Linked DNA regions of Homo sapiens: region 2 is linked to region 1. A link means that fine-mapping ties the variant in region 1 to the expression of a gene that starts in the linked region. Tissue or cell type: testis. Region 1 holds a variant in brackets; the other region holds the start of a gene. All regions are shown on one strand. Distances are between the middles of the regions.

Region 1 (8,115 bases):
TTTAGTAATACTTTAGTAATACTTTCTGATCATAATCTTAAAAGGTTCATTACTTGTGAAAAAGTAGATACTTGAAAAATAAAATTTTTATATTATGGAAACTATAAAATCAAGTCTTATCTCAGTTTTAATCTTCAAATAAAAAACTTCACCACCTAAAATTTGGACAAGGGAGAGAAACACATATTATCTCTCTCTACATTTAATCTTTAATTTGCAAGATGATGTTACTCTTTTCTATTACCATTTATTGAAAAGTGGATGCTCTCAAGTTAATATATTATAGATTAGAAATAATATTTATTTAAATATCAGAAATAGGCCAGGCATGGTGGCTCACACATATAATCCCAACACTTTGGGAGACCAAGGTGGGAGGATTACTTGAGCCCAGGAGTTTGAGACCAGCCTGGCCAACATGGCAAGACTCCTTCTCTACAAAAATACAAAAAATTAGCCAGGCACAGTGTTGGGGGCCTGTAGTCCCAGCTGCTCAGGAGGCTGAGCAGGGAGGATTCCTTGAGCCCCAGGAGATTGAGGCTGCAGTGAGTTAGGATCATTCCACTGTAGTCCAGCCTAGGGGACAGAGTGAGATCCTGTCACACAAAAAAAGTAAATAAATAAATTTAAAAATTAGGTCGCTAATTTAAGTCGCTAGTAAGAGTATGAAAAATGACAGAATTAAATTCCCATTGTATTTTCTTCTCCAAATAAGAAGTACTGAATTCTGAATTGGCATAAGTGTATATTATTCTTTAGTCAGCATCTTTAAGGTCTGTTTTAGAGAATGAATAAACGTTTTTTACTATATTTTACTTGAGTAAATATTTCTTTAAATTAAACATCAAGGTACCAATACTATGTGGTCTCAGAATTAATTTCTTTAATTTATGAATTCATGTAGACAGCGTTTTAAAATCAAGTTCAGATGTTTTAAAAAATCTGCGTTTTCTTTACTAGCGGCTGTTAACATCAATAAAGAGAAAAATCATTTGAACATCAATTATTAATGTCTACTTATGATTTTTTTATTACTTAAACTAAGCTGCCACTAAAAAAATTGAGTAAGAAGGATGGGAAAATAGAATCAGTGGAAATATTTGTATTTAATATAGAGTATTTCTTATCCCTAAACATTTAAAATATAGAGAAAGCCTGTAAGAACACAGATACTATACATTTTTGCAGATAGTGCAAATTGCACACTGTCCAATTGCCTTTTTATGTTTGTTTCCTTTTCTATGTCTTTTTACTGATTATGTTTTAAAAGAGTAATACAAAACGAATTTCCAGCAGAGCTGGTTTACACATGCTACCTCTAAATAAGGATAGCATTTTTCCCAATCAAGTTGCTTTGTATTACCAAGAAAAGTAATATCATAAAAGAGAGAGATGTTACTCAAAGAGTACTCTCTATATATTCCAGAATATTTACATCATCAAAATAACCTGAGTTTAGAAAATAAAGCAGAAAGTTGGCAAATGGGAATTTAGTTTGTTTTAGGAATGCAAAGAAAACTGAGTAAATGAAAGTATGGAAGCCTTCACAGTACTAAAGCAGCTTAAAAGAAAGAAGTCCTGAATGCCTGTCGTTGTTCTTTTTTGATTGCTTTATTTTATTGTTCTACTGTTTGCCTTTTTAATTACCTGTTTATTGATGGTGGGTTGCAATAATTTGAGAGGTGTGGCACAAGTTATAACTAATAGATACAAGTATGTTCATATTAGGTTACTAAGTGATTAGCTTCGTTTTCAAATCAATTAAAGTAAATTTAGAGTTATTCTGGTAATAAGGCACTTAACATACACTTGCCATCTGGTGGCATTGCTTAGTGGGAAAAGAATGGAATAAATTACATGTTTTCTGTAACATCTATGACACAGCCTATAATCTGCAGAAGCTCATCTAGTTGTCACTCCTGTGAATGCCATTCCCTTGTGTCGCACATACAGACACCTATCACTGAATGTAAGCACTATGGTTTTAGGAGGCTATGCTAAGTTGAAATATATGTTTCACCAGTTATCTCCTGAGTACAGTGATTCTAATGATTTCATTTTGTTTTTTCCTTCACATTATGTTCCTCAATTTTAAATTTATCCTTTTTTTTCTGCAGACTGTCTATTTAGCACCCCTTATAAATAAAGCTTTTAAGATATTAAGGAGCTTAATAATAGGTGAATCAGTTGGACGAATGTAGGAAAAAATAGTACTTAATCTAAAAATGCATTAATAAGAAATTGAGGTTTTTATAAGATTGTCAAGTAAATTATGGCACGAATTTTGTACTATAGAAGAAAGATGATTCTGTGTCTGTTTTTAAACATCAATATTTCTGCTAAGGGGAAGGGGCCTTTCAGACAACAAGTATTAAGGAGGCCACAATACACTGTAAAAGTGCATGTGAAAATTTATGCTGTTATACGTCAAAGTAAGCACTTGGATTAAGGAATAATTAGAAAACATTATGGAACAGTTAAGTAATAAGAAAATAATACGGGTTGAAATTATTATGGTCTGTAGGCAGAGGGTACATGCTTTATTTTTTCAGCTGTAATTATTATAGCAATTATAATTTAATTCATCACCACCCATGTACTAACTGTGTATTTTAATTATTCAGTAGGGAGGTACTGTAAACTGTGTTTATGACTCTGGTCTACTCGAGGATCAGCCCCATGATATTTTTCTCCATAAAACTTACCAAATATAATATTCTTTTTTACAAAATTATTTATTGCTTATCTTTATGAGTTTGTATAAATGTTATCAGTCAGAGTATTCTAGGTTATATTGCAGTAACGAGGTGTCTCAGTATAATTATTTCTTTTCACACTACAAGTGAGAAAATGACAGCAGGTTAATCTCCTTACTTAAAAGGCCTAGATTAAAGAGGGCTCTGTGTCAAAATGCAATCCTTAAATAAACAAAGTAGGAAATAACAGAATGTGATAAGCTGTGTTCTGATTCTTAACATTTCTGTCCCCAAGTTAGATATTTTGCTCCCATTAATATTTTCTTGGCCAACGAAAATCACATTACCAAAAATAACTTCTACAGGTGGCCATTGTAGTACAATGCACCATACACCTCTGAGGTAAGATCTAGAAATATTTGATGAACAGCACTGATTGATTTCATAATTGTAATCCAAAAGTATGGGAAGTAAGATACTTGAAATAAATTGAGAATGTATCCAATTACATGATTAATGCTTTGAGGTAAGTCATTCCATGTCATTCTAATGTCATAGTCCCATGCCAGAGCATTTAAACCTAACACTCTTGGGATAGAGCTTGAATGTTTGTAGTTTTTGTAAGGTCACCTCATGATTCTAAGGTACATTCCTGATTGAAAACCACAGTTGTAAAAATGCTTCTTGGTAACACATTTGTCTCTGTCAAATACATTCATTTAAATCATTATTGCATGTCTGCTATGTTATAGCATGTCATAGCATGCTATGTTATAGCATGTCTGCTATGTTTCTGCAAATTAGTAGTTAATAAACTAAGATTTTCTAGGAGATGAATCCATGTTTTAGGTACAATACTAAGTACCTAAAACAAGAAGTGTTTAGTCAACTGTCTAAACACATAATGTAAATCATCTAATTATTTTTCAAAAGATGTAACACTATTAAGAGGAGATAATAAGAAATATAGTTGTCATTGTATATTGCTTAACATTTTGTCATATTTAGTAAGGCAAGCTTTAACCAGACATAAGAATCAACA[T/C]AATATTTCAGCCAGTTCCAATCAGTTAAATTAGTGCTAATTTGGTTGAAGTTTATTTAGTAAAAAGTAATACATTCTAAATTCTAACATATTTAATACAATCTTTTTTTATTTTTCAACATAAAGTTATAATAAAGATTTTTAGAAAAATTTTTATGACTTATAACATATTTATAGTACATTCTTGCATTGTCAATCTTTACAAAATTGATCTTTCTTATTAGAATAGTCTATGTTTTAAATCTGGTCATAGAAGTTTTCAAGCTAATTCTCTCTCAAACAAGTTAAAAGGTGCCAAATTACACATTCTTTGAAAATGAGCCAATTTAAAGTCCTTGTTTCAGCCCCAAATTGTCATGATATTAATGTTGAAATGGCTTGCTGATTTTCATTACTAGCACCTGAGACAATTTTAAGAAAAAATAATTTGGAATAAATAATGGTATAACATTTTCCAAGCAATAGTTTGTAGATTCAAAAGAACGTCAATCCATTTATTCTTCTAATTTTCCCAACACTATACCACACTAAGTGAAATAATCAAACTCATCTAATTTTTACCCTTTTCTTACAGACAAGATTTCTACAGAATACTAAGGCTTTTCTCTATCATTAATAGAAAACAAATACTCAATTGAACACTTGACTATTCTCTTCAGAATTATATATGAAAGTAATTCATTTTTAATTAATTTTTAAATTATTAATAATTATCAATTGTTAATTAAATTCTGTTTTTTAAAAAGACACCTACAAAAAATATTTGGAATTTAATATCAGTGAGTGAATTTTTCTACTGACACCAAATTATAAGTCACCGAGAAGAAATAGAAATTTAAAATACTTAGCAAAGAAAAATTACTACAATATATTCTAGATAACTAGAGTCACAAAGGTGCATTATGACCTTTAAATTTTAAAAAAATTATATAAAATTTTATTTTTCTTTAGAACCTATTTTATATTTATCTGGGAAAAAATGGTGCATGAATTACAAGAAACAAACAACTCAAAATGTATAAAATATTGCAGATGTATTCAAACCTTCAAGCAGATATTCAGAACTAAAATTATGTTAAATTATCTTATTTTGCAAGTATATTATTTAAAACAATGTTAGTCTAAATTCATGTAACAGGAAAAGAATAAAACTATTTTGGGTAACCAAATTCTTAGCAAGTAAATAAACTTTGGTCTCTCAAAAAAGATTTCTAAATTTATTATTTAGAGTCACAATCACCATCATAACTTGCTTACATGAAGAGGGAACAGTAATATGTTTCCATAAATAAGGGGTTGCTCTTACTGGACACCCTTCCTTAGAGAATTAACACACAGTGATTAAGAACAAACAGTTGTTATAACAAAGACCAGGTTTACAGAATTAGTTTGGCCATTTATTGGAGTGCGTTTCTTGTGGTTAAATATTAAGCTACTCGGTCTTTAAATACCCTCACCAATGAACTTTGAGTAACGATACAAATATTTGAAGGTTGATAGAAAATTAAATTAGATAATGTGTGAATATATCTTAACACAGTATCTGCAAATGAGTGAATGCCATATAGATTTAGCTATTATATTCATTATTTTTACCATTTAATCACTTTTATTTTTTTCATAGAAAAATAACTCTCCAATAAGGTTACTATTGATTAGTATTAAGTAGGGAAATACATAGAGATGTTTTATTTTTAAAATTGCATGTGTGTGGTAGAGGAAAGAGACATCCAATAACATTAAAAGTGCACAGCCAGGTTAGACACATAAACATTAAAAATTCTCTAAGAAATAATAAAATTTAAATTTTTGGTTTTAATGACATTGAAAGAGAATGTCCTATTGTGAACAGTGAGAGGTTTGCAAAAACACTACAAAAGTTAATAAAGAGCAGTTTGTTTGCTTATTTTAGATTTAATAATTTTATAGAACACAAATTGCTCCTTCAAAATTATGAAAATTTAAAATCCACATGTTTTAAAGGGTGGCAAGAGTTTGAGCAATTCGGATAGCCCTATTTGACTTATTTACCTCATCTGTCTAGGAATAATATTAGTTCTTATGCTACAGTATTATTTTCACAGTGAGATAAGCCACACATGAACCCATAACACAGTGCCTGGCTGTGAACACTCAGTAAGTTAATAATTAACAATTAACACTCAATAATTAAAACCTAATAATGAAAACTCAATAAATTACTATCTTTATATTTAAAGCTGTTTAATGAAAGTATTTCTCTAACTTTGTAATTTCACGCTTTTTTTTTCTTAAAAAATGTAAGGCTTTAAAATGTTTTATAGTATGCTTCAACCTTTACTCCTAACAATCAATCTCATAAATTCAGGTGGGTAAGTTCCATTTGAGCAAGCTTACTTCTATTGAGATTTGAAAAGTATATGTGACCTGTAAATGTTATCAGAAACAGTAACTCTATTTGACAAATGGCCTAATCACTCCACTCTAGATCAACACATTTTTCTTGTTATAATAAAATGTCTCTTCTAAGAGTGCATATGGATTTTAACTTTCCTGAATTTCTATAAATTTTTAGCTACTTTATAATACAGCTTTGTCCTGGAAAACTGAAATGTTCCATGAGGTAAATGCTCACCCTATTTTGCTGCATGCCACACAAAAGTCACTTTCAAGGTTCAGAGAATAACTATTCTTTGGCTCTTTTTTTGACAATTGTCAGTTTTTGAAAATGCACAAACCTTCCTTCTCATTGAAAGGAAACATGGAACATTCAATATCAGGGGTCAGCTCAACATTAGGAGGCTATTTAAAAGCATGGCCACATTTCTCCTGGTATAAGTCACTTGCCAATTTAGAAGGAAAACCAGGCTGTACCAGAACTTTAAATGTCCAAAAGTTTCTTTAATCATATTATAGATTTTCACAGTGGTGTAACTTTAATTTTTATAATGTAAGTTAAGTTAAAAATAAACTACAATTTTACTGCATTAAATTATCACTTCTAACAAAGATGTGCTCTTGCAGCTGATAATGATTCTCTTTAATCTCATTTATTTCTCAGGTTCCTTAAACTTTAGGCCAGGTGGCGGCTCATGCCTATAATCCTAACACTGTGTCAGGCAAAGGCAGGAGGATTGCTTGAGCCCAGGAGTTTAAGACCAACCGGGGCAACATAGTGAGACCCTGCCTTTGCAAAAATAGATGTAAAAAATTAAAAAAAAAAAAAGCTAGGCATGGTGGCATGCGCCCATAGTCTCAGCTACTCAAGAGGCTGAGGCGGGAGGATCCCTTGAGCTCAGGAGTTCAAGGCTGCAGTGAGCTATGATCATTCCACTACACTCCAGCCTGAGTGACAGAGTGAAACCCTGTCATTATTTAACAAAAAATAAAGCAAAAAAAACAAAAAACAAAAAACAAAAAAAAAAACAACCTTTACATTTAAAATTTATCTTCCCTGATAAGTTATTCTTCACAGCTTGGCCTGAATTCTGATCCTTTCTTTATCTGTGATAACTCCAGTATTACTCTGCAAATGCTAAAGTTGATTGATTGGTGTGCAATTACATTTCAGGTAGTTTTAAGTTGTTCACTTTTAAAATATTTTGATGTAAGATATTAATATAAATATTGCCTTGTGCACAAAATGTGAAGTAATGCAAGTCTTTAAGATGTTTTTAAGGTCTCAAGATCACATACTTTCAAAGCTGTGGTTGAAATGACTTATAAACTACATTTAAACTACTGACACATGCATGACAGACCCACTTTAAAGAAAAGCTTGTAAAGAAAACCAGTCACTCTTCAACAGCAATAGGTGCAACAAGCTGTTATTTACATGGTGCTAATATTTTACATGCATTATAATTTTATAATTTAAACTAATTTAAGATGGTATTAAATTGATTTCCAATTTTCAAACGTGGGCATGTTAGTGTTAGTACTTTACAATCTCTAACTTTAATACAGAATAGCATGATTATATGCTATGTAAAAGCCTTAAACGTTCCATCTTGTGCTGCTAAGTTTGGAGTAGGGACTCAGATATATTGGTGGAAAACTGAAAAATAAAAAGTAAACTGAAAACTCTTACAAAATTCAGCCTGCAAATACTGTATTGAAGGGCAAGAGAAAGGAAATGATATTTGCCACATGGTTGTAAGATCAAAGCTGCTATAATGTATCACTAAGTCAAGGAGACCTATGTTCTAAGGTAGAGTGTATACTTGACAATTTAAGAGGAGGTGACAATAAAACAAAATGTTCTATATCAGGTTTTATTGTGCTTAAAAACTATTTGCAAAAGCAAAATCACGTTACCAGACACAACAAATACATCCTCCCTACTTTACATGTATCCTTATGGGAAATATTACTCCTGAATCATAATCCAAGATTTTC
Region 2 (8,115 bases), 340 kb after region 1:
TCTGTGCTTCTAAGCGCCTGTAGCTCTGGCATGCATGAGATCATTACTAGGGGCAGAAAAAGGAGCCTGTGGGCCTTGTACCCTCTTTTTCAGGAAATTTGCTAACATTAAAGCCCTGCCATGCACAAAAATGGTGGATTTACTATTCTGTTTGATTCCCCATGTGTACAGTTTTTGCTGTGCCCTCACTACAAGTTTTTTGCTTAGAAAATCTCAACAAGAATCATCTAAAGTCTCTTTTATGAGCTGAATAAATGGTTCTGTTGCCTTCCTACTTGATAGATTCTCCTCACTTCAAATTTTTGATGAAGTGGTCTTTAGACTCATAATCCCCCCAGGCCTTTTGTTCTGATCTCTCCATTACCAGCCATCTATTAACTTCCCACCCTCTTCAGCTCCTGGAGTGTTTCTAATTTTCTTAGTCCTTAATCCTTCACTAGAAATATATTCCTGCTTTGCAGAAATGAGAATTATGTCATTCATACTGAATCATCCCCTGGAGAGGATAAAATAGATTTACAAAAAACATAGAGCCTGGTATGTAGGGAACTTCTCTCCTCCAATTCCTATGTTGTATCTTTGAGCCATTAACATTTCTAGATTGTGCCTTCCCTACTATCCTGGCGTGGTACAGGGCTTCAAACAGGACTTTCTACCCTGGACGTTCTGCTCTCATCAGCAATTTAGGGGCGGCGAGTACTAAACTGGTTTCTGGTCCAAGCAGAATAAGATTCTAGGGAGAATTTGGCAGATACTAAAGACTGGCCTTTTTTATACACTCACAGAAAGGAAGCCATAAACCAGAATGTGTGAAGGAATATGATGGAAAAAATATATGAAAACTCTGTCTATAGCATCTTATTCTACTTTCTGTACCTAATATTACTCAGTGTACTCATGACTCCATAGACAAAATGTCATAAATTTTTATTCAGTAAAGTTTGAGTTCTTGCTAAATGCTAGGTGCTTGCAATTGAATGATGTATCATGTGTTAGGTAAAGTTGAAAACACATAGATTCTGATGAAAAGAAGCTTGATGCCTCATGAGAGCCTCTGCTTTCTAGTTACTAATAATCTGTTAGGGTACATCATTCAGAGTTGGTCTCTTATGCCCCATGTTCTAAGCATTTTTTTCCCTTTTTCCTTTAAGATTTTCTTATCAGTGTCCCGTTTTATTTTTTCTATAATAGTCTTAGGGATCTGATAAACTAATCTGATCCAAGGTGTTAATAAATAATTGTACCAATGTTTGCCTCACCAAGTTAATTTAATTATTTAATTATGTAACTTAAAGAGGTTAAGTAATGTGTTGAAGTTACAGAGTCAGTAGAGAAAGCATTTTTAACTCTTTGCCCTTTTGTCGTAAAACCTTATTTTGAAGCACTATTTATCCAACATTAGAGGTGAATAATCTTTACTCACCATAAGGAATTGGTTTCTGGCAATAAGACTATTTATGCCTGAAAAATATTTCCACTCTGAGACTTTATACTGGTTAAAAGCTCATATTGGAATTTTAGAGCTTTCTAGAAGAGTTCCCACCATTTACAAAATGGAAAAAAAAATCAAAGTAAACTTGATCCATTAATCATGGATAACCAAACTCTATGAACTGGGAAAACGTGTTTCAGATATTTCAGATGTATTAAATCTAATATGATCTAGATGTATTGTGGGTTTTTTTTCATGTTGGTAGGAAAACAAACAAACACACAAACAAAAATAATCAGCTAACAGATGTACCCTTGACTAGCTTTCAGAGAAAGGGATCAAGGGTTGAGTTTCAATTTTTTTTTTTTAATGAAAATCCTACATACTTTAAAAGCTACAAACCTGTTTAATCAAACTAAATCTGTAGAACAGGAAGATAGTTTTTGATATTAAAGTTTTGACTTTTCTTGGAGGCTACCTAAAAAGTTACATAGCATGAAAATTTGGCACTAGGAAATGAAACTTGAAAAACATGATTCTGACAGGGTGCCAACATTTTATAGAGGCTAAAAGCAACCATTTTATTCAGAAGCTCAGCTTGGTGGTGAGCAACCTACGACTTTGAAGACTAAATAGGAAGGCTCTTCCTAGGTAGACTTCTTTTCTTTTCTCCAGGATCCAAATGGGCTACTTGAAATATCTACAAGTCGTTCATCTAAACAGCAGTGCATCATTACAAGAGCTAATTGCTCATTATTTTTGCAGCCTAGTTTAAAGGAAATACATGAAAGATTTCTCAGAGGGTTCATGTTTCAATTTTGAAGCCTGGGGTGAAAGGACTTAGACTGTGATCCATTGTGAGAGCTGACTAGCAAATAGAGCCTGTTGCAAACACCCACTGTGCCCCATGTTCTAAAAGAATACAAGCCCACTGTGTCAGCAGTTGTATCAGGCCCACATGAATGAACTTTCAGAATGACCATTTTATTATGTGTATCTAAAAATGAGACAAACCCATATGCCTGGGGTATGGGTCTTCAGAAATGAGGAGGCATCAAGGCCTGTGGTTTGATTAAGCATTTTACCTTATTTTAGAAGGGATGATGTCTGTGAGATCAAACTAAGACAGGTCCCTGCTTGTTCTCTATGAATCTGACATGCATTCATACAGAAGGGATACTAATAGGCTGCTGAGCTATTAATGAAATTCAATTTCAAACCATGTTTCATGGCCAACCGTGCTGGTTGGATGCAAGAACAACAAGCACAGCACTTTTAACAGCCCTCTCTGGATGAATTAAATAAGGATGATAGAAAAATCCCATGTATAGCAAATAAAAAGACATTGAATAATGGAATCAGACCAGGCGGCAAGGTAGTTCATTGTCAATATCTTACGATCGTAGAATATAAGCCTCTACAGTGTTTGGGCATTCTGTGATTCATGAAATGATAAAAACAATGAGGTGAAAGACAGTACACTTGTTTTTTTTAATTCTTATAGTTATCTCATAAAAATGAGGAAACTGACAATTTTTTAGTACCATAAAATGTCCCATTGAAATTTCACTAAATACTTAGCTAAAATTTTACATCTTTGACCTACTGTTTGGGCATTCTGTGATTCATGAAATGATAAAAACAATGAGGTGAAAGACAGTACACTTGTTTTTTTTAATTCTTATAGTTATCTCATAAAAATGAGGAAACTGACAATTTTTTAGTACCATAAAATGTCCCATTGAAATTTCACTAAATACTTAGCTAAAATTTTACATCTTTGACCTACTGTTTTTCCTTCTTTTAATGGACAAAAGCTTTCTCCTTTTCAATTAAATGTGATAGGTCATATGCATGTATATTATTATTTTACATGTAATATTTAGATTTTTTTAATTTAAATTATAACACGGCAATCCTCCATTATTTTTTTTATTTGGTAGGATTCAATAGTTGCTTTTACTCCTTCCATTTCTACTACAAATTTACATTTTACTCAAATATTCTTATATTTACATTTTACTCAAATATTCTTATATTTACCCAATTAATATTATTTTATATACTTACGTATATTTATATACATATATTTTATATACTTATGTGTATATTATATGTAATCACCCTTTAAATCCAATAGTATGATTGATTGCAGGATGCATTAACTGAAAAACATTTTCTTAATGTGGGACATTTTCTTTTCAATCACAGTTTATATTTAATATGTACATAGCTTTAATTTTTTGTAGCTTTCTTTTCTTTCTCTGTTACTTTTGTTAAAATTCAAGCAATAGAATTCGAGAACTTTCATATCAAAAACATATCATATTATTTATTCCTTAACTTTCATTTCACAGGTAGATAATTAGGGTTCAGAGATACAGTCAAAGACTGGCAGTAAAGGTCAACAGTATATTCCTAAAAAATAAGTACTGGGGATCTAATCTCCTTAGTTCTTATTTTTATAATCTAAGCCATAATATTGGCAATGAGCAAATAATAATCTTAAACTAAATTGTTTCGTCTGAGTTTAGTGCTCTAGTTTTTCAAACTGCTCATTGCTTCTCTGATGAATAGCCCTTTAAAAAGAGGTGACACGGAGTTAAGATATAAAAGAAGTCAGAATTAGTATATATATCTCCAAGCTATCTGTCACTTCTCCTTTCTTAACCCAGACTGATCGATCGGTTGATTGATATAACCCAGCACTATGCATTCCTGATGCGTATTTGAATCAATTCCTGTTTCGGATTACTAATTGGCCTGCTTCCTTCTCCTAATTGCACTTTGTGAGGACTACTCTAGGCAACCAGCTTTGTGAGCTCATTAACAGCTTTGTTCAACCTCAGGGAGGTTAAGGCACTCACTCAAGGTCACACACCTAGTTAATAGGGAGTCTAGCTTCAAACCCACATCTGACTGAATCTAATTCCACCTACAGCTTTGAAGGCTCAGAAAACATAACTGCTTGAAAAACTGAGTTAACTCTATGACTGCCAGGACAAAAGCTTAGGATTTAGAAATGAAACAATGAATAAGTAGACATTTTGCTCTCATTTTGTTATTTTTTACTTTATTTTCCAAATATGTTTAGGTTAAAGAAAAGAACATGGGATTTAGAGTCAAATAGGCAGGTGTTTTGATTCTACCCTTGCTAACCCTGTGACCTTTGGTAAGTGTTTAAACTCTCATAGCTTCAGTATTTTCTCTACTCTGATATACACATGGGTTCTTCGTACATAATATGTTCTCCGTAAATGTTATATAAAGGCTTCATAAGAAAATGAATAATGTACCTAATTATAGCTACAGCTTTGCAAATTCAGTGCATTTAACAACAATGATAATCAACTTACACGAGCACAAATTAAAGTAACCCTCCTTCAGGTTTTCTAATATATTCTAGTTTATAGGTATATGTACTGTTTCTACTTATCAAGGCTTGAAACATAAGTGTTGAATTCTTAGTCTTTAATGCTATGACATTTGGGCGATGAACAGATTTTGATAATTGTACCCATACCCCTACAATATCTTTCATATGTACCTGCTCCTTGCTTTCCATTCTCATTCCATTTCTGCCGATGTATTGCAGTGATTCTTATAATCATTCACAAAAGTTTACTGACTGCTCACTATGATCTTGTTGAGAAAAATATTCCCTACCTGCACTTTTCTAATTTGTCTTGAGTTCTTAAGTTTTGGAGGTTACATTTTTTGAAGTAAGGATTCTCTTTCTCCCTTTGTTTTTATTGTTTTTAGATAATATTTGTCAGAAACTGATTTCATTTGAATAACTCTTTACTGACATAGGACTTCCTTCCTTCCTTCCTCCCTCCCTCCCTCCCTCCGTCCCTCCCTCCCTCTCTCTCTCCCTACTTTCTGTCCTTCCTTCTTTTTTTTCTCTGAGTCTTGCTTTGTCACCCAGGCAAAGTGGCGCAATCTTGGCTCATTGCAACCTCCACCTCCTAGGTTCAAGTGATTCTCCTGCCTCAGCCTTCCTAGTAGCTGGGACTACAGGTGCTCACCACCACGCCTGGCTGATTTTTGTATTTTTTTTTTTGGTAGAGACAGAGTTTTGCCTGCAGTGAGGTGTTTGGCCAGGCTGATCTCAAATACCTCATGTCAGGTGATCTGCCTGCCTCAGCCTCCCAAAGTGCTGGGATTACAGGCGTGAGCCACAGCGCCCAGCCTGACACAGGACTTTCATGTCTCATAAATATTTCTGTTCTTTATCTTATGGTTTAAAGATTATTCTAGTCAAGATATATATTCTGGATATAGTTAAAATCATTAATTTTTCCTTAAAATTTTGTAAAGTTTGAGTCACATTTGGCTTAACCTTTACATAATGTTTTGTTTTAGTCATGTACATTTATTTGCTAAGTGTTTCTATTCAAAGACAGCCTCCTCTTCTTCACCAACCATCTATTGTGATCTATTACAGCATGGTTGCTATAACCATGTTGGTTTTTATCACATATGTCTTCTTTATATCTTTATTTTATTAATTCATGATTACGAAGCCATGAATTTTCTTGGCAACTTCTTATTAGACCTGAACTATTTCTTTGTCCTTTCAAAGTCCCAGAGAACACTAGAAATACCAAGTTACTGTTGACTTTCCAGTACCTTCAGAAAATAAATAGCACACTGTTTCTTTTGTTGTTTTTTAAGGTGAGTATTTATCAAAATCATCAGTAAACATGATTTTGACAAACATACATTTATGCTTACTCACTACTTTCTTTATCATTTTCTTATCTTACCCTGATCTAAATGGAAGACTAGAACAAACATTGTGCCCCCTTCATCATCTGGATCCTTATAAAATAATTTGACCCATGAAATCTTATCTCTTTTGCTCACAAACTTCATAAGTGAAAAATGAACTTATGATTTTGTTTTTGTTTTTTTTTGAGAAGGAGTCTAACTCTGTCACCCAGGCTGGAGTGCAGTGGTGTGATCTCTGCTCACTGCAACCTCCACCTCCCGGGTTCAAGTGATTCTCATGCCTCAGACTCTTGAGTAGCTGGGATTACAGGCGTGTGCCACCATGGCTGGCTAAGTTTTGTATTTTTAGCAGAGAAGGGCTTTCACCATGTAGGCCAGGCTGCTCTCGAACTTCTGTCCTCAAGTGATCCATCCACCTCGGCCTCCCAAAATGCTGGGATTACAAGCCTGAGCCACGGCGCCTGGCCAGATTTATACTCTTTTTTGATAGAGGGTCGCAGACCCCTCTATTCTCTCCTGTGATCTGAGATATTTCCTTCTCAGGCCTTCGATAATCATTAGTTTTGAGTGTGAGCTGAGGAGAAGAGGAAGTTAAGGAAGATTTGTATCTAAGCCATGCATTATCTGATTTTCCACCATTTCTTATACTGATATTTTAGGTACAATCATAAATTATCAAATGCTACCTTGCTTTTCTTTGTGACCAACCATTTTGTTTTTTCTCTCCCCAGGGATATTTCTAAATAATTGAGGGTTGTGGCCTACAATTCTGTTTTTCCTAGTTTCCCCCCAACCCAATAATGTTATTTAATTACCTTAATTAATAACTGCTTTGTTTTGACCAGTGCAATGACCAGTATGATTCTGAATATATACATAGTTCCAAAATAGCATTAGTAGCTATTGGATCTTTAAACAATTAATCTTTTTTTCTCTCATTTCTGTTGAAGACGTTGCTAGACAAAGTTGTAAAAGAGGTTCTGTGATAATCTCCTTGACAACAAAATATGTTCAATGGATATCTATGAACCTAGAGAAATATGCATCCTGGATTGTAGTTCTCAAAAAAATAAATGTTGACAAAAGCATTTAGTATACATATGCCCTGCTGCTTTAATTCTTTTGTGAGTTCTCATACAGTTTGTAAGGTTTCCTGTATTGTATGTATATAATAAATTTTAATGAAAACCTGAAGCAATATTTGATTGCCCTAAATTTATCCTTCCATATGATCCAGGTTGTTCCTTGGATATTTATAATTCCGGAACTAGAATTTATAACACATACATCAGTCTCAATCATTTCTATTTTCTCCTGTGCATCCTCTGAGTGCAAGAATACCAGTATCTAAATATAATCCTCAGTGTTCCATTTCAGCCAAGTCCTTTGCAGAGAAATATTAGCTTTCACATAAGCCTTTTTTTAAAATCTTGTTATTCTTCACAGTGTGATGGTTCTCCCTGTCACTGAATAGATCTTCATTTAGGAATTCACTATGTTATGATTTTTGTCCCTTAAATTTAGGCACAGTTTATAATAACACTGAAGATGAGTTTATTCTTTAAAAGAATAATGGAACATAATACATTTATCCACATTTATTCACATAAAATAACTCTACATGCCTTGTGGGTTTATGTTGTGTTATATTTTTTCAAGTGTTCCTATGTGTGTTCATGGGAAAATCTAGAGCTGCCTGCCCTGTTTTGACTCACAGAGCAAAGAGAATAGCAAGTGCAAAAAAAGTAATTCCTAATTTTACATAGAACAGTGTTCACTATTCACAATGATTAAAAGGAGGGTTTTTCATAGTTACTAAACATCACACAAATACACATGTGAATACAAGTATTTTAGTTGTTAATTTTCCTCACTATCTTAGATATCTGTCTTGTGTAACACAGATAACATGATTGTTCAGCCCTCACTCTTTCAGTGTTGAGTGTTTT

Evidence for each region. PIP is the estimated chance that this variant, and not a neighbour inherited with it, causes the effect. A credible set is the group of variants that fine-mapping cannot tell apart.
Region 2: LINC00358 starts here. The variant in region 1 is the best candidate, but not a certain one, in a credible set for the expression of LINC00358 in testis (GTEx, PIP 0.59).

The regions. Positions count from the first base shown.
Region 1 is chr13:62,369,662-62,377,776 of GRCh38, reverse strand. No RefSeq gene overlaps it. Among named protein-coding and RNA genes, the nearest start is that of LINC00459, 50 kb to the right of the region's middle. The variant T/C (reference allele first, on the strand shown) is at 3,739.
Region 2 is chr13:62,025,748-62,033,862 of GRCh38, reverse strand. LINC00358 (long intergenic non-protein coding RNA 358) reads left to right here and starts at 4,315. Exons shown (of 2, transcript NR_046995.1): 1 at 4,315-4,604.